3 linked regions of the Homo sapiens genome follow. The protein of the gene in region 3 purifies or fractionates together with the protein of the main gene of each other region. This does not show direct contact. Each region holds a gene or a part of one and is shown on either strand. Other genes may lie near its edges.

Evidence for each region. The genes of interacting proteins can lie anywhere in the genome.
Region 1: the proteins of GSPT1 (region 3) and PABPC4 purify together in Homo sapiens (affinity purification with mass spectrometry; 2 studies listed by BioGRID and IntAct, with this or other methods). This does not show direct contact.
Region 2: the proteins of GSPT1 (region 3) and EIF4B fractionate together in Homo sapiens (co-fractionation; 2 studies listed by BioGRID). This does not show direct contact.

The regions. Positions count from the first base shown.
Region 1 is NC_000001.11:39,560,284-39,566,790, forward strand, and holds the end of PABPC4 (polyadenylate-binding protein 4), read right to left. Parts: intron 5,096-6,507; coding exon 4,823-5,095; exon of another isoform or gene 4,787-4,822; intron 4,491-4,786; coding exon 4,403-4,490; intron 4,260-4,402; coding exon 4,140-4,259; intron 3,640-4,139; coding exon 3,553-3,639; intron 3,459-3,552; coding exon 3,331-3,458; intron 2,134-3,330; coding exon 2,040-2,133; intron 1,921-2,039; coding exon 1,790-1,920; intron 1,505-1,789; coding exon 1,415-1,504; 3' UTR 1,402-1,414; intron 840-1,401; 3' UTR 533-839; downstream 1-532.
Region 2 is NC_000012.12:53,037,456-53,042,747, reverse strand, and holds the end of EIF4B (eukaryotic translation initiation factor 4B), read right to left. Parts: coding exon 5,126-5,292; intron 4,393-5,125; coding exon 4,337-4,392; intron 3,511-4,336; coding exon 3,405-3,510; intron 3,119-3,404; coding exon 3,046-3,118; intron 2,606-3,045; coding exon 2,525-2,605; 3' UTR 533-2,524; downstream 1-532. UniProt on the Homo sapiens protein: Required for the binding of mRNA to ribosomes. Functions in close association with EIF4-F and EIF4-A. Binds near the 5'-terminal cap of mRNA in presence of EIF-4F and ATP.
Region 3 is NC_000016.10:11,884,957-11,891,988, forward strand, and holds part of GSPT1 (eukaryotic peptide chain release factor GTP-binding subunit ERF3A), read right to left. Parts: intron 6,184-7,032; coding exon 6,106-6,183; intron 2,795-6,105; coding exon 2,614-2,794; intron 1,976-2,613; coding exon 1,821-1,975; intron 1,656-1,820; coding exon 1,515-1,655; intron 319-1,514; coding exon 225-318; intron 1-224. UniProt on the Homo sapiens protein: GTPase component of the eRF1-eRF3-GTP ternary complex, a ternary complex that mediates translation termination in response to the termination codons UAA, UAG and UGA.

The DNA.
Region 1 (6,507 bases), on a different chromosome or scaffold from region 3:
AAGAAACCACAAGCACTGAAGACTTCAGCACCATTTGCTATAGTCACAGACCTCCCATTTTCCCTGCTAGGGGAAAACTTGGTTGCAGAATCTGGGGAACTGGATCCGCTGACTCGAATGCAGCATAAACTGACTGCAGGAAATAAGAGGGGACAGGACACACCCCAACCGAGTTCAGGAAGGGAAGGACGGGGCTCAACTAACCAACTGGGATCTGCAGATCTCACCGTATGTCCTTGGGGTGTGCGCCAACCCCACTCTGCCCCAGATTTTCCTGGGCCAGACCCATGGTCTGCTCTGACCACATCAGATCTCTGTTCCCTCTAAGTTAAATGGGGCTAATGTAACAATCATACTGTAACAGAACAGTGTGGGACAGGATCATATTTAACAGTTCTGTGTATCTTGCTAATCTTTGTCAGCTTCAAGTCAAGAAAGAATAAACTATCACTGGAACCAATTCACATCCTAAAGTTACTTCCAGTGAAAACCGGAATTCATAGAGTAAAACTGTGGTCAGAGACAGAGGCAGTTTTATGGAGATTTTTTTTCTTTATTGGGAAACGTAAGACTTGGGTACATCAAATAAAACCAATTTCTGGGGGAAAAAATCAAAACCCACAATAAAAAAAAAGTTAACACTGTCTGGGCCACAGCAGAACCCAAAGAACATATTCGTATAATTGAAAAATTCTAGGTGCTTCATAATTGACCTTTTGATACAAAATGACCTATTAAATTTGCAATTTGTAATCCTTGGTGTTGAGGTCCATAGGACAAGCTAGGAAGTCTTCAAACCTTGAGTTGAATTCCATAAGGGGTTATTTGGCTTTTGAATCCTGTAAAGAAAAGCACCAACACAAATAAATGCATAATCAAATAATTTAGATTCATTAACATATAGTGGATAAAGGAAGGTATTCTAGAAGAGAGTTTCTCAACCTCAGTGCTATTGACACTTTGGACATTCTGTTGGGTCTGTCCTCCTGTGTACTGTACAACATTTAGCAGCATCTCTGGTCTTTACCACTAGATGACAAGGCTCCTGAGGCCCTTGACAAGAGGGTCATGACTATGCCAAGTCAACCCTCCCAACACACCAGCTCTGGTCCTTACCATGTGCTTTTTCCTTAGCTTATTTTACTGTCTCTTCTTTCCCTATCTGGAGACACCTACAACCATCAACCAGTACTAGTTTTATTATTCACTCAAGCTCCTGCAGACAAAGTCCACAGTCCTCATGATAAGAAGTCACCTGCAACACACTCCGTGTAACTAACTGTACTTATTGTATTCCCAGAGCTAAGCAGTGAGCATATATACAACCTCAGGTCAAACCACAAAGACAATGCTCATAGGAACAATGCTCATAGGAACAAAAATGAAAATAGCCACACATACGGTTTTTCCTTGTCTAAGAGGTAGCAGCAGCAACAGCGCCCACCTTCTGGGCAGCTTCTTTCTTGGCATGATGAGCCTGTAGAACTGCTACAGCTTCATCCACCTGCGAGAAATCTTCAGGTGGTCAGTGAATCTAGGAGAGCTACTCCACCCCTCCCCAGTGCCCAGACCTAGTGGTGGACCAAAGCCAACTGTACAGATGATCCCTAGGCTTCTGGTGCTAACTACTTTCCCAAATACCCACTGCAGCCTCCAGTCACAGTCAAGGCATGACGAGAGGGGTCCTGGGGGCAGCAGATCCCACTTTCTGCTGCACCTGGGCATCCAAGTTTGCCCCCAGTCTTCCCAAGCTGAGAACTGAAGCTGCAGGGTCTGAGCCCCAGCTCACCTTGGAGCGGAGAGACTCGGGGGACTCTAACATGTGCAGCAGCTCAGAGTTGTCTATCTCCAGCAGCATTCCCGTGATCTTCCCAGCCAGATTTGAATGCATTGTTTGGATGAGTGGGAACAAGCGTTCTCCTATGGGGAGGATAGTTAATAAAAAAACAAATCAAATCCCAGTAAACAATGGACACTGGTGTCCTAGCTGGCATCAGGCTCTGGGACCCTCTTCTTCTGCAAGCAAGTGGGTCACTCACCCAGCATCTGCTTCTGTTCCTGGGGGGGTGCTGCAGCCAGCATGGAGGCAGTCAGTGGCTCCTGCCCCTGCACATGGACCGCAGGCTGGGGTGCCTGGGAACCAGGAAAGGCAGTGGGTTAGCACTGAGGAAAGGACAACACCTGATGGTGGTTGAGTGCCTGTTCAATATCTGAACATCTGACTATGTGAAAGAGGAGAGGAGGTGGCTGTCCTTGCTCTAAAGGAACTAATTTCAGTCCTTGAAGGATTGAGGGGTGTGTTGAGGAACAGAGTGGTATGGACATAAACACAACCAATTACAATGAAAATGGCATGCTATCAGAAAGCGAAGTGAAACGTAAATAATAAAACAAACCTATAGTGCTAGGCAAGCATTTTCTGACATTTCCTTAATACACCCAAAGTTACTCAAGAATGAAAAGCCTTGATATAAATAAGGGTAAACACTTGTATATAACCTTTTCCTGAAAATTAGTTTTCCTTTAGGGTAAATCTCAGTGCAGATTGGATCAAAGGGAGTAAATATCAACACATTTATAATTACATTCCACATCACCTTAATTCTACCAAATGTTTTTGTATCAAATGCTTAAAAACGGTCAACATGCAACGTCAATGCTAGTCAAAGCCTTGCAAAGAAAAGGTATTTTACATAGCATCAAGTTCTAGGAAATCCCCAACTTAGAGAGTATGAGACAGGACAGTTAAAGAGTAATCTCCTAAGCAGCTTATGGGCCTGAAGGCTTAGGGTGACACCTCCACAGCAAATTGCTATTAGGCTCTGAAACAAACTAGTTGCATCTAGAGCACAGGTCTAGAGACAGCAAGTTACAGCTTAGAAAATCTAAGCTCTAGGTTCAACCCCTTCACCTCCTACACACACTTTACATCTTTGAAGCTGAACATCCGATCTGTAAGTTGAAGTTATTTCCTGCATTAATGTACCAATCATCTTGCAGAGCAGCCAAGGATCCAATAGGTCATTGGATGCGGAAGTGACCTGGAGGCTCAAACAGCTGAATGAGCACATTATTTCGTACAAACAGAAGAGGAAGCACTGGCTGCCCGCTCTGAGGCATTTCTGAGTGAACTGGCATCAGGCAGAGCACTTTTAAGCCCCTTCTTTCCCACTAGTGAGCCCCTGAAGGGCAGGGACAGTGAATCAGAACATAGCGTCATAACACAGAGCAGGCATTTAATACCTGTTGAAGGAATCAAAAGCACAGCTTCTTTTACATCAAGTGGAAATGGGGGAAATCCTTTTAAGCATTCTGTCTGGTGAACCTCACCTGCAGAGGCTGTATGGCAGGATGAGGGCTGCGGACACTGGAGGCGTATTTGTAGGGGGCAACAGCCCGGGGAGCAGCAGCAGCAACAGCAGCGCGTGGCGCTAAGTTCTGCACAGCTGTGGGAACGCCTTAGGGAAAGAACAAATACAATTAAAGCCCATCAGTCTGGGCAAAGACCCGTCAAATCCCATCTTTCCCCCTTCTGTGTGCATCCAATACCACCTCCAGACTGGCAGCTGTCAGTCAGCCCTTGCTGGGCGGCACCAGCCCCACCAAAGTCCATAGCCAAGCGGTCCGGGCACTCAGACCCTACAACAGACCAGCAAATGCACATCAGTGTTGGCGGCAGATGTCCAACTGGCCACGTCCCACGGAAGGAGAAATTTCAAAGCACGTTTACGCAACACATTGCACAGGGGGCCACTACTACTTTCGAGGATGAGCCAAAGGATAACATACAACTCTTTCCACATCTTGGAATACAAGACATATTCTGTATACACTGTTTCCTTGTATTCCTCACCCCACCCAAAAGAACAAGCTGCCTCTGTGGTCATCCAGCTAGCAAACTTCTACAACTAACCTTTTTCACATAGGTCACCGATGAGCAAAGAATGTTAAAAGCAACTGACACACCTAGAACTCATACTGTTTCTCTGCTCCTGAAGTGGCCACCTAAGCACACAGCTAAGATTACAGAACCAGGACTCGATAAATTCGAGCCCAACAAACTGACCAACCCAGGACAGAGCCTAGTCATCCTGACTCCCTCCTCCCCAGGCCACACTTCTAAAGGCCAGTTTGCTCACCGACTCTCTGAGTGGTAGTAGGGAGGCCACGAGAGGCCGGAGCATTACCAGTTGGAGCCAGATGGCGAAGAGTTGGACGAGGCCCAGACTGGCGTATAGCACTTGGCATTCCTTGGAAGCCTGGTGAAGAGAAAAATTGCACATCATTGAGAAGTGATGTGGACCAGAACCTAGGCTGTGCCTCAGAGTGGGGAAGAAGGAAAGGCAGGGGAGACCAGGACAGGTATATCCTGGGCTGTCAATTACTGTTCCCCACCACCTACCTTGAGGTCTCCCACCTTGCTGCCAGCGTGGATTAGGCCTCATCTGTGCTAACTGGTTAGGTGTATAATATGGAGGCCTTCCCTGAGCCTGTAAGACAGAAGAATACCCAAACACCCCCTTAAGGACTGAACCCATCCTAGAGAAGTATCTCATCTCATCTCACTAACCAGGACCTAAGCTAATTATTTAAATGTTCTTTCTATTCAAGAGCTGAGGGGTCAGCTAATGGGGACTGTTTTATGCTACCACTGCCACTGTGGGTGTGTGTTTGTGACCATGGGTAAGTCCTTCATTTTTACTTGAAGGGTCCTTATTGTGACATTCTAGAACTCTAATAACGAAAAATCCCTCTCCCCAACCACTGCAGAATACTGCCAGCCGGCAGGTTCCCAAGAGCTGTGACCAAACAGCACACCCACCTGTGGGACTGCTGGCACAAAGTAGCCACCCGCTGCAGGCTGGAACTGATTTAAGATGGCATTGGCAGGAAGTGCTCTCATTCCAGCCACTCGTTGCATATACTGGTTGGTCAGGTGAGCCTTTCTCTCTTCCTTCCTCTGGGCCAGGGCAACATATAGTGGCTTGGAGCCCACAATGCGTCCATTCATCTCAGTGACTGCTTTGGTTGCTTCTTCAGGAGATGAGAAGCAGACGAAGCCAAACCCTTTGCTTCTTCCATCCTCCAGCATTACCTACAAAATGAGACCAGCTACTTAAGAAATAAGGTGTCCCTGGCTGGGTGTGATGGCTTGTGCCTGTAATCCCAGCACTTTGGAAGGCTGAGGTGGGAGGGCTGCTTGAGCTCAGGAGGTTGAGACCAGCTTGAGCAATGTAGTGAGACCTCATCTCAAAAAAACAAAGGGCCAGGCGCAGTGGCTCATGCCTGTAATCCCAGCACTTTGGGAGGCCGAGGTGGGTGGATCACGAGGTCAGGAATTCAAGACCATCCTGACCAACATGGTGCAACCCCGTCTCTACTAAAAATACAAAAATCAGCTGGGCGTGGTGGCACACACCTGTAATCCTAGCTACTCAGGAGGCTGAGGCAGGAGAACCGCTTCAACCCGGGAGACAGAGATTGCAGTGAGCCGAGATCGCGCCACTGCACTCCAGCCTGGGCGACAGAGCGAGACTCCATCTCCAAAACAAAACAAAACAAAACAAAACAAAACAAAACAAAAACACCAACCAACCAAACCAACAAAAAAAACAAAACAAACCTACAAATAGGAAAAAAAAGGATGTCCCTGGGTGGGGAGGGAACTATTCAGAAGAACCAGAAAGCCTGGGTTCTGCTGCAGTCACTGAGTCTAGGTCAGGGTTCTGGCACAGGATTTACCCCAGACCAACTAAGTCACAACCTCTAAGGTATCTAGGTGTTTTCTTTGAGTCCCCAGGTGATGCTAAAGTTCTGAAACACTATGATATGGCTAATAATAAAACCAGGAACTCAAAGATGTTTCCTGATACCTGGTGGATAGCTACTCCGGGTAACCACAAAACATCTTGAGAGTAGTACTGAGCAATTTATTTTCATATCTCATATGCTTCAAGACCTCGGTGGACAAACTCTAACAAGCTCTTACCAACGTCAGGATAACACTTTTGGAATACCACGTGTGGACAGGAGTCCTAAAATGTTCAGGTAACCAATGACTGCCACCATTAATTCAATGAGATGACCAGCTCAGAGATAGGCAGCCTAGATTCTAGTCTCACTTGCCTTCCTGAGGCTCAATTTCCAAGAAATACTCCAAACAGCTACAAAACCACAGGTCTACTGGTTCAGGCAGTCTTTTCCCACATTAAGTTCATCATTCACAAATGGCATTCTTCCTAATAGACAAGGTTATTCACTGTCTTCTCTGGTGTGACTGTCATTGTTTTATGTCTTAGTTAATGGCCCAGAGAGCCTCCTGAAGTGGAGGATAGGGAAGTAAAGAAGTGCATCACTCCATAACTCTCTACCAATGAGATGGGCCAGTAAGGTATGTGAATAAAAATGCCACACCATCATAATGAAAATGGGGACAATTCAAGGTATGGCTCTTCTGCTCTCTTAACAAATGCCAACTTGACTACTAGGCAGATAAGCAAGGATAGA
Region 2 (5,292 bases), on a different chromosome or scaffold from region 3:
CTTGCAACAATGACCAGTCTGTCCCTAGCTGTTTGGAAAATTCCCACTGAGTCTGTGAGCCTCTGTTCTGGTAACCTCGACCAGCCTGTCACCAGTATCTCTGGTCCACCAGTGCGGTGTAACTCAAGGGAGCAGCATCTCTCCAGATTGCTGAAGTGAGGGAGGGAGATTATGAGGGAACTGCCCCAAGGACACAAGGATTCATTCTTAGAGTTCCCACATCTTGATTAAAATAAACAGTACAGGAAATAGACTGCAGGCACATCCAGGTGATTAAAAAATTTAACACCAGGCAAAAAAAAAAAAAAAAAAAAAAAAAAAAGCCAGAGGGGAGCTAGGATGCAAACTCTATTATTGGGCCTCAATAAACACTGAAATAGATTCCCTTGTAACCCCACCCTCTAATCTTGGACAATATGGTATCCAATACTGAATGAAAACTTCAGAGATGGTAGGAGGAGGAGGAGCAGGTGGTCAATGACTACAGTAAAAACCACTGGGAGTGCAGAGTATTTGTCAAAGAACTTCAGCATTACAATGAACTTTAAAGATCAGATTTATTTGGAGAAAACAAAAAACCCACAACCCAAAGGATGGGATTTTACATCAAGACATCTCCCAGGTAATAAGTCTACAGATTACAAATCATTTTCATAGAAGATATTTTTGTACAAATTTTACATGTATTCAGGAGCGGGACATTAATCAATCCCTGTTTCTATTTTAATAGGGGGGACAAGGTAGGGGAGAGGGAAAAACAGTTTTGGATATAACTATTTGGAAGGAGAGTAGACATGAAGAGGGCAAACCCTAGCTTTTCATTATCTACAATCAATAGTTTGTTTTTCTTTTTTAAAAAAGAAAGAAAAACCCTTTCAATCTTCAATACTCTTTAAAAGCCCACTTCTTAGCTACTGGCCAATCCACACCAATTATTTAAATTCACTTGGTACACACCTTTGTCCACTGGGTAAATTATATTCATTATGCCCACTGCTGCAGCACGCATAAACCAACACCCCTGCATGGCTGAACAGGGCCTAATCTAGGACTGATGGGAGAAGGGCTTGCAAACCAAGATCAAGGTGTTTCTCCGCTAATACTGTCTACCAAGCTGATCCCTACAAAAATGCATATAAAAGCAGGCAAGTTTAGCTACTGTGTTGCAAGAGAAACCAGGACCTTGTTAAATAGTTCTCTCCATTACCATTTATTCTCTCAAGGGAAGCTTAAAAAAACAACAACAAAACAACACATTGGTCTGGCCACCTCATGAATCCAACAAGCATTAGTGTGGCATTTCAGTGGAGAAGGAAACTTGGGGGGAAAAATCCCATCAAGGTTGTAAGAAAGGCTCCCAATTTAACTGTCCCTGTCCCTATTTATCCATCATCCAAGACCATCCATTATTCTAGAGCACTCTGATCAATAAAAGGGGTCCAAGCATCAGGAGCAGGCAAGGAGAACCAAAAGACATCAAGAAACCGATTTGCTTGAGAAAAGCAGCGATTCTTCCTTTCAGAGTTCTCCATGGCTGAGAAAATGCCCAAGACATCATGTATGTGACTTAGATACTGCTTTTTGGGAGGTTAAGAGTAGCATGAAGAACTTAAGATGATGATAAGAGTCTAAATTTTTAGTTTCAAGGTTTCAATAGAATGTGGATATATTCAAAACTTTCAAAAAGGACAGTGTTTAGAAAGGGTAAAACTAGGACACAGAAAACACTGGGAATTACCACGACCCCCAAGTGCTTCCGGCTCCAGGAAATAACCATTCATGTGTTTGCTGGAGGTCACACAATTTTCCCCTATTACCTGGTGCAAAATGACTCATCACTTCCCAAAAGCTTCTTTTCAAACCACGATTTTCCCATTTATTTTGGTCCAATGCAGTCCCATTCTTTATGGCCTATAGTCTCACTCCCAACTACCCCCCTGGGGGGTTAAAAAAAAAAAAGGAATTCCCTCTAGGCTGGCCCCCAAAACTCAGAATTAAATAAGAGGAGGGGCTGGCAGCCTCCTGGAGACTAGAACAACTTGAGGCTAAATCTACCTTTCCAAGAGTGGAAAATTTATTCAGATAATGTTTGAGAATTCATATATGCCACAATAGGATAAAAACTAAAAGGTAGAAATCTCACACTTTTCCTTCTACCTCCCTCCCCTACTGCCCAACCAGGTTCCAGGCATTATATCACTGTCATTACCATTTCTGCTAAATGGAGACCCCTAGGCACTAATCACACTGGCAACTGCATGGTGACATAACGCACCACAACTTTTCCTCTAAAAAGCTGTAGTCCCTTTCTCTCTGGCTGTATTGGCAATTCTCCAGTTACTTCAATACTTTAAAGGCTGCAGCAGCATGCAAAATAATTTCATTTTTTGTTTTTAAAAAAAGGTAAGAAAGGTCTTCAGGAGATGGTGAGTTTTATTTTGTCTTGTCTGGATAGAGGTTTTGATTTGCTCTCGAATGTTCCAGGGTGGAGAGAAACTAGGAGAAAAGCACAGGATGTAGAGGTCTATTCGGCATAATCTTCTCCCTCATTTTCATCTTCACCATCAACAGAGAGAGCAGCATACTTGCTTGCAGAACTGAACTTCTGTAACACAACGAGAGTGACAGGATAATGAAGGCCCTGAATTATCACATCAAAACCCAAGACACAGGATACTGATCCTTTGGCAATGGGGGATGACAGTCAGATGACACCCACTTGCTTGCTCATCAGCATTGTCCATTGGAGAGGAGCTAGGGAAGAGGGTCAGAGGCACATGCGATCTTACTATAGTCTCATACCACCTCTACACCTTGCAGAAGGGATGAGAACAAAGGAAGACAGAAACCAGGAAAAAGCTAAACTTCTTTCGCTATTTCAGTAAAGACCAATGTCTTATTTCCAAACACTTTGTATTCCAAATGGAAAGAAGTCCAACGGCAAAAAGTTTAGAATACTAAGAATTTTTAATTCTTAGTAAGAATACTTAGAATTCTAAGAATTTTTCTTAGAATGAAAAATTGGGAGCAGCCTTCAACACTTACGGAAGCTGGATTTTCCTCAGGTTTCTTTGGCTCAGGTGCAGATCTGGAGTCTTGATCCTTTTTGCCATCTTTCCTGCAGAGACGTAAGCATAAAACCATGTCTTTAGGAAAGGACTCGCCTAATACAAACATGTGTATGCATGCAGTTTCAAGGCACTGAACAGGCACCTCTAGTCAACAGTCCTTGTTGTCTGGATGATGTATTACTTCTAGATTTTCAGAATCTTAACTGTCTACGTTGGCTGACTTTAGTTTGCTCACAATGAGCGATCTGGCAGTGCTCTGAGAACCAAGAACTTAATTTCTTAATTACACAAACATGTGGATCAGAGGAAAGATGAGAAAGAGAACAAGCATACCTATCTGACTCCTTCCAGTGGTCTCTGTTCCCTCCGTCGCCTGGACCACGGCTAGAGTTCCCAGTTTGGCCTTTTGGGGCATTCATCCCATCTACTTTATTTTCATCTGCTTGGGCAGTAATGTAAACAAATTAAAGGCAAGTAAAAGTATCAATGTCCCTCTCCTAAGATTTCCCTTAAGCTGAAGAAAATTGTGCCCACATGTACTGAGGGAAACTAACCTCACCCCAACCCAGACTTCCTTCCTGAAGCCCTTCTTTCCACATCCTCTACAGCACACAAAAATACAAAAAACAAACAAAATCCACTAAAAAGTTCCATGTAGGGATATGCCATCATGAAAAGCAAGCTGGAAATAAAGATTATGACGCTCTGTAGTGACCTTGGTTAATTTCCTTCCGATTTTTTTCTCCCCGTCAAAGAAATGTTCTACCAGGAAAGGGCAGGGTTTCATACTTTCTCCAAAGAGGCCACTCCTCCCTCTACTGGCAAGAAAAGGTAGATAACCCAATAATTCTTTTTTTTTTGAGACAGAGTCTTGCTCTGTCGCCCAGGCTGGAGTGCAGTGGGGCCATCTTGGCTTACTGCAACCTCCGTCTCCCGGGTTCAAGCAATTCTCCTGCCTCAGCGTCTCCCGAGTAGCTGGGATTACAGGCATGTGCCACCACACCCGGCTAATTTTTTTTGTATTTTTAATAGAGACGGGGTTTCACCATGTTGGTAAGGCTGGTCTCAAACTCCTGCCCTGTGATCTGCCCGCCTTGGCCTCCCAAAGTGCTGGGATTACAGGTGTGAGCCCCTGCGCCTGGCCAACCCAAGAACTCTTAACACGGTATCAGGTGCGAGACACACTGCTCTTCAAAATCTAATTTTGGAGGCCTTTTTATTTAGGCTTCTAGGTGAAAAACCTATTTCCCATACTATGAGCTCACCTTTCCTTCCTGGTCCTTCCTCAGATGGTTGAGCTGGAGCTACTTTTCCCCCACCACTAGAAGGAAAACAGGTAATCACATTCATCAGTTGTTTCAGGGAGAAAACAACCAAGAAACATAATCATCCTCCAAATGCAGTGGGTAAGCTTTATAGAAAACAAAATCATACTCAATGTTATGGAACATTAAAATATGGGAAAGATTACAATGAAAGCAGTAATTTGAACACTAAAGTGCCATATGCTTTCTAATCATCACATCATGCAGGATTAGTATTGCTATTTTCTTTTCTTTTGGAGTCTTAACTCTGTCGCCCAGGCTGGAGTGCAATGGCACATCTCGGCTCACTGCAACCTCCGCTCTCAGGTTCAAGCAATTCTCCTGCCTCAGCCTCCCGAGTAGCTGGGATTACAGGTACCTGCCACCACGCCAGGCTAATAGTGTTGCTATTTTGCTTACAAATGAGAAGACTTAAGAGAAATGAAAGGAAGTTACCCCCTACCATACTGCCAATATGTGGCAAAAGGGAAGCCTCTGACTTACAGTATTTGCAGATTTGTGCGGCATTAGTACTCCCATCATAGCTGATTTCAAGCTATCAAAGTGGTGGAACTCCAGAAAATGGAACAACTAGGTCTTATGAGCCAGTTCCAGCACACTAAGAGACTAAAGCCAGCATAACTTATAAGGTGCTATACAACGCTGGCATCCCGTAGGAGATCTTCCATCATTACATCACAGTATTTTAGAATCTGCAGTTAACCAACTACTGTTTCCAAACTGACTCACCTTGTAGGGGACTGCTGCTCTGTGTCTGAGCTCTGAGATCGAGCAGGAGGGTTAGAACTTCGCTTCACCCAAGCATTCTCCTTTGGTGGAGGGGCTGGCATTACCTTTAGGGGCTGATCAGGTTTGGGAGGTTTAGAAGTTGGAGAGTGGCAATCTTCCTCCTTATT
Region 3 (7,032 bases):
ACTCAGGAGGCTGAGGCAGGAGAATCACTTGAACCAAGGAGGCAGAGCTTGCAGTGAGCTGAGATCGCGCCACTGCACTCCAGCCTGGGGGACAGAGTGCAAGATTCTGTCAAAAAAAAAACAAGAAAGAAAAGAAAAGAAAAAAAGTTTTCAAAACTAGAAACAAAATGCACAACAATGATTTCCCCTCCCAGGAAACCCAATTTCTTTAACATTTTGGGTACCTTGTACTTATCCACAATTGGCAGCCTGATTGGTCCATCAACTGATCTATTGAAGTTCGGCAAATTATCCAGATATGGAATAAACGGTAATCCACTGAGAACATAACAACAAAGCCATTAAAGGAAGTCAACATAAATATCAAAATGTTAAGTTACATGACTATAAACAGCTTCTAATAATATTTTCATTCTACTCATGTATTCTTCCCATTCAACCACTTTATTATCCATTTCATCTCACTTATTCCACAGAAAACTATTATAAAACTGCTCAGTATAAGGCTTCCTCATAAACTTATTAAAATTTAGAGAAATATTTTATAGCAAATAGCCTACATGTAATAAATTGACTATATTACTTTTTATGGACTTTTCCAGCTATGAAACCAAGATTCTATAAAATAATTTCCCCTTTAAACATACAGTATTGGCTGCGTGCAGTGGCTCATGCCTATAATCCCAGCACTTTGGGAGGCCGAAAGGCAGGTGCATCTCTTGAGCCCAGGAGTTCGACACCAGCCTGGGCAACATGGTGAATCTGTCTCTACTAAAAATACAAAAATCAGCCGGGTGCGGTGGCATGTGCCTACAGTCCCTACGACTTGGGAGGCTGAGGTGGGAGGATCTCTTGAGCTGGGAGGCAGAGGTTGCAGTGAGCCGAGATCATGCCACTGCACTCCAGCCTGGTTAACAGAGTGAAAACCTGTTTCAAAAAAACAAACCAAAAAAAAGAAACACGGAGTTCAAGAATAAACTCGTATTTATGGTCATTTGATTTTCAAAGAGGGAGCCAAATCAATTCAATGAAAAAAGAATAGTCTTTTCAACAAATTGTGTGTAAACAATTAATATACAAAAACAAAACAAACCTACACATAGACCTTACATCTTACACAAAAGTTAACTCAAAATCAAATACATATCTAAATGTAAAAAACTTCAAAAATAAAACCTTTTGTGCTTCAAAGGACACCATCGAGAAGTGAAAAAAGGCAATCCATAAAGTGGGAGAAAATACTTGCTATAATCATATTGTAGCTGATAAGGGACTGGTAGCCAGTATTAAAAAGAACTCTTAGGACTCAGTAACAAAATGACAACCCAGTTTAAAAATGGGCAAAGATCTTAGTATTTTTAAAGCCAAGGTTACATTTAATATTTTCTTAAATTACTTATAAAGATATATGCTCAAAAGCATATGTTAACATGTTACTCAGCATATGTCTTTATAAGTAATTTAAGTAATAACATCCTTTTCCTTTTTAAAAAAAGGAAAAAACAGTTACTTACATGTACCAAGGACAGAAATCCGACTGCTCTTTGAGATTTGCTCCAGTAAGTCCTGAGCAGGGCATAAAGTGAATGTCCTTTTTGGGATTGAAGCCAACTTTTTTCAAAAATGGCACTAGTTTCTCCTTACATTCTTCATATCTGCAATTATAATGTAACCAAAATAACTCAATTATAATGTAAACCAAGAACTCTAGTTTCCTAAGTAAACAGATTAAGGTTTAGAAAAACCCTAGAGAAAAAGTCGTACAATAACAAAACCATCCTTAATCCCACTAACATAAAATACCAGACATCTACGCTCACCTCTCATTGCTCCAATTTACTGTTGGATCATCCATCTTATTAATTAGCACAATTAGGTGTTTTACACCTGCTGTCTTTGCCAACATTGCATGTTCTCTTGTCTGTCCTCCTTTTTCAAATCCAGTTTCAAACTCTCCTTTCCTGGCTGAGATTACCTAATTCCAAGAAAGGAAACAGTTTACTCCTTCGCCTTCAGGCATACCCTTATGGCAGTAAAACATCTTTCCTTTCAGTTATATCACGAGTTTTTTTTTTTTTTTTTGCAAGAAAATAGAAGCAAACGAGTTATGACGTACCTGCTTTTGAATGTCACAAATCAAACAATGTCTAGATGCTTCCAATCCCCCACATTCCCAAAATCTAGTATACCTGCATATTTTAAAATTCCAACATTTACTTTCTAGCTATTGTAACTACAAAGGAAAAAAAATTGTGATCTACTACCAGTACATTGTGAAAAGCGCAAAATGACTGAAGACCGTATGAAACAGATGGTTTCCTATTCATTTTTTACCCATGGTGCCTAACGGTGGGCTTGGCATTTAATGGAGACTAAGTTCTGACATGGTAATAGATAATAGCAACAGGAGAGAAAAGGTGAAACGTATTTTCAGAAGTAAATCAAATTTTGAAGATTTCTTGAAGAGAGATTAGTATGATGAAAACTGTGACCGTGTACATCATTATATTTCACTGCAACCTGAATTTGAGCTTTTAGAAGATAAATTCAAATTTAAAGATATAAGCGGGGCTACTAACAAATATACAGATGGACTGGAAATGTCTTTCTTACCAGCACAGCCAAATCAGCTTGAGAGGCACCACCAATCATATTTGGGACAAAACTCTTGTGGCCAGGGGCATCTAGAATTGTGAAATGCTTCTTTTCGGTTTCAAAATAGGCACGACCCACTTCTACTGTTTTACCCTTGTCTCGTTCTTCCTGATTTGTGTCTAAGGCCCAAGACAAGTACCTGAAATAATTTTTAAAAAAAGAACAATATTCCTAAGAACATCAGAGTTTTTAGGATATTCTTCACCATTAAAGATATAATGGATGACACACAACACCTAAATCACGAACAAGATTGGTGAAATGAAAATTGAGCCGGGTGCGGTGGCTCACATCTGTAATCTGAGCACTTTGGGAGGCCAAGGCGGCGGATCACAAGGTCAGGGGTTCGACACCAGCCTGACCAACATGGTGAAGCCCTGTCTCTACCGAAAATACAAAAATTAGCTGGGTGTGGAGGAGCCCACCTGTAGTACTTAGGAGACTGAGGCAGGAGAATCGCTTGAACCTGGGAGGAGGAGGTTGCAGCGAGCCAAGACCGTGCCATTGCACTCCAGCCTGGGCGACAGAGCAAGGCTCCGTCTCAAAAGAAAACAAAGAAATTGAAAGAATAGGGCTGGGCGCAGTGGCTCACGCCTGTAATCCCAGCACTTTGGGAGGCCGAGGCTGGCAGATCACCTGAGGTCAGGAGTTCGAGACTAGCCTGGCTAATATGATGAAACCTCATCTCTACTAAAAATACAAAAGTTGGGCATAGTGGTGCACACCTGTAGTCACAGCTATTTCGAAAGCTGAGGCAGGACAATCGCTTGAAGCTGGGAGGTAGAGGTTGCAGTGAGCCAAGATCGTGCCATCGCACTCCAGGCTGGGCAACAGAGGGAGACTCTGTCTCTCAAAAAAAAAAAAAAAGGGCTAGGTGCAGTGGCTCATGCTTGTAATCCAAGCACTTTGGGAGGCCAAGGCAGGCGGATCACCTGAGGTCAAGAGATTGAGACCATCCTGGCCAACATGGTGAGACCCCATCTCTACTAAAAATACAAAAATTAGCTGGGCATGGTGGCGGGCGCCTGTAGTCCCAGCTACTCGGGAGGCTGAGGCAGGAGAATCGCTTGAACCCAGGAGGCGGAGGTTGCAGTGAGCTGAGATCGCGCCACTGCACTCCAGCCTGGTGACACAGTGAGACTCCGTCTCAAAAAAATAAATAAATAAAATAAAACTGAAAGAATGTATTATTTTGATTCAAACCCTTAGAGCTTTTATATAAACGCAGTCAATTATACCATCTAGAACTTTATGGCAAGTTGACTACACAGAAAGACTAACTACAAATGCCAATATCACTGTGTGTTAAGTGATAATGAGCTCCCTTATTACTTCATTTTTATACTCACATGGCACAAAATACAACACAAATAATGGCTGTCTTGAGAGTTAAAGGGTAATAATAAAACTTTTTTGGATGGATGCTGTGGCTCACGCCTGTAATTTCAGCATTCTAGGAGGCTGAGGCAGGCAGATCACAAGGTCAGGAGATTGAGACCATCGTAGCTAACACGGTGAAACCCTGTCTCTACTAAAAATACAAAAAATTAGCCAGGCGTGGTGGCGGGTGCCTGTAGTCCCAGCTACTTGGGAGGCTGAAGCAGGAGAATGGTGTGAACCCAGGAGGTGGAGCTTGCAGTGAGTGGAGATGGAGCCACTACACTCCAGCCTGGGCAACAGAGCCTAGGTCGTGCCCGGCACCCCCACCCCTCTTCTTCTTTTTTTTTTTTTTTTTTTTTTTTTTTGGAGATGGGAGTCTTGCTCTGGCCAGGTTGGAGTGCAGTGGCACCATCTCGGCTCACTGCAACCTCTGCTTCCCAGGTTCCAGCTATTCTCCTGCCTCAGCCTCCCAAGTAGCTGGGATTACAGGTGCCCACCACCACGCCCGGCTACTTTTTGTATATATATTTTTTGAGATGGAGTTTAGCTCTTGTTGCCCAGGCTGGAGTGCAGCAGCACCATCTCGGCTCACCGCAACCTCCGCCTCCCAGGTTCAAGTGATTCTCCTGCCTCAGCCCCCCGAGTAGCTGGGATTAGAGCATGCGCCACCATGCCCAGCTAATTTTGTATTTTTAGTAGAGACAGGGTTTCTCCATGTTGGTCAGGCTGGTCTCGAACTCCTGACCTCAGGTGATCCGCCTGCCTCGGCCTCCCAAAGCGCTGGGATTACAGGCGTGAGACACTGTGCCCGGCCATTTTTGTAGTTTTAGTAGAGACAGGGTTTCACCATATTGGCCAGGGTGGTCTCGAACTCCTGACCTCAGGTGTGATCTGCCTGCCTTGCCTCCCAAAGTGCTGAGATTACAGGCTTGAGTCACCGCGCCTGGCCCAATAAAAGTTGTTTTCCTTTTTTCTTTTTTTTTTTTTGACATGGTGTCTCACTCTGTTGCCCAGGCTGGAGTGCAGTGGTGCAATCTCGGCTCACTGCAACCTCCGCCTCCCGGGTTCACGCCATTCTCCTGCCTCAGCCTTCCAAGTAGCTGGGACTACAGGTGCCTGCCACCTTGCCCAGCTAATTTTTTGTATTTTTAGTAGAGACGGGGTTTCACCATGTTAGCCAGGATGGTCTCGATCTCCTGACCTCGTGATCCGCCCGTCTTGGCCTCCCAAAGTGCTGAGATTACAGGCTTAAGCCACTGTGCCAGGACTAAAACTTTTTAATAAAATAAAAAATAACTGTCCTCAGATATTTTTGAAAACTGAAAGCCACTAACGCACCATGTGGGAGCAATGGTTACTTGCTAAAAATTGCTTCAATATCACACTGCCAGGCAAAAATTCATATAAATTCAAACCATCCGTAATAGTGGGCATTAATTTAGCTTACCTCATCATCTTCACAGCATGTCCTCAATTTTTTATAACAACACTGACTAGCATTTCTCCCGCTTATTTTAGAGGAATATAATTTTATTTTAAAAAAATGACTGTCAATATCCCATTGAGGTAAGGCTTGCTAACTTTTTAAAAATAAAAGTAACAAGGTTAGAAAACAAAAAAGTTGACTGTCTCACCATTCAAAGGCAACCACTGTCAATAATTCCATTCCATTTTATTTCCAGCATTTATTTATATAATGGTCATATCTTAAGTACAGGGATGTTTCCTGCTTCCCCCCAACTGCCACCACAACGCAAGTTCTATTCATGGTTACTATAAATTATGTAAATGTAAGTTTTCAGTGGTTGCAAAATCACCCAATTAAATGGATGGTTTATAGTATTTTCAACAAGTCTATCACCAGATATATGGATTGTTTCCAAATTTCTCTGTGTAAGTTATTAAAGCATTAGGAACTCATCTACTGTGTATTATGAGGAGAGGGGAAATTTCCTTTGTTGTGATACGATTTTAGACTTCAACAATTTATATTTTAACAGGCTCCAAAAGCACTAAGTGGGCATCGTCTCCTTAAAAGTAATTTATAAGTGTCATAAAAGTTTACTATACCAAGTTTCTCTGTTTTTCTCTTTAGCTTCTCTTTCATACTTTTCAAGCGTCCTTTTGTCAACCATTCCAGTCAAATACCTGAAAACATTTAAAGAAAAAAAAAAGTAAACAATTACTCACAAATTACTCAGTGGAATTAGGAAAACGTGAAAATTGTCGAAAATTTCAACGTCAGAAAATAGTTATTTTATATGTGTGTGTCTGTCTAAAAAAATATAAAATATATATATAACATATATAACATATTTTTATATAAAATATATTACACATTTTTATATAAAATATATATATTACATATATATATATATTTTTTTTTTTGAGACAGAGTTTCGCTCTTGTCATCCACCTGGAGTGCAATGGCACAATCTCGGCTCACTGCAACCTCTGCCTCCTGGGTTCAAGTGATTCTCCTGCCTCAGCCTCCTGAGTAGCTGGGATTACAGGCACCCACCACCAAACCCGGCTAATTTTTGTACTTGTAGTAAAGATGGGGTTTCATTACGTTGGCCAGGCTGGTCTCGAACTCCTGACCTTGGGTGATCCACCTGCCGCAGCCTCCCAAAGTGCTGGGATTACAGGCGTGAGCCACCACGCCTGGCCATATTTTTTTTTTTTTTTTGAGACAGGGTCTCGCTCTGTCGCCTAGGGTGGAGTGCAGTGGCGTGATCTCAGCTCACTGCAACTTCCTCCTCCTGGGTTCAAGCGATTCTCCTGTCTCAGCCTCTCAAGTAGCTGGGATTACAGGCGTGTGCCACCATGCCTGGCTAAGTTTTTGTATTTTTAGTAGAGACTGGGTTTCACCATGGTCAGGCTGGTCTCGAACTCCTGACCTCAAGTGATCTGCCAGCCTCAGCCTCCCAAAGTGCTGGGAATACTGGCATGAGAACCACCACGCCTGGCCAGAAAATAGTTAAAGTAAAGGAACCA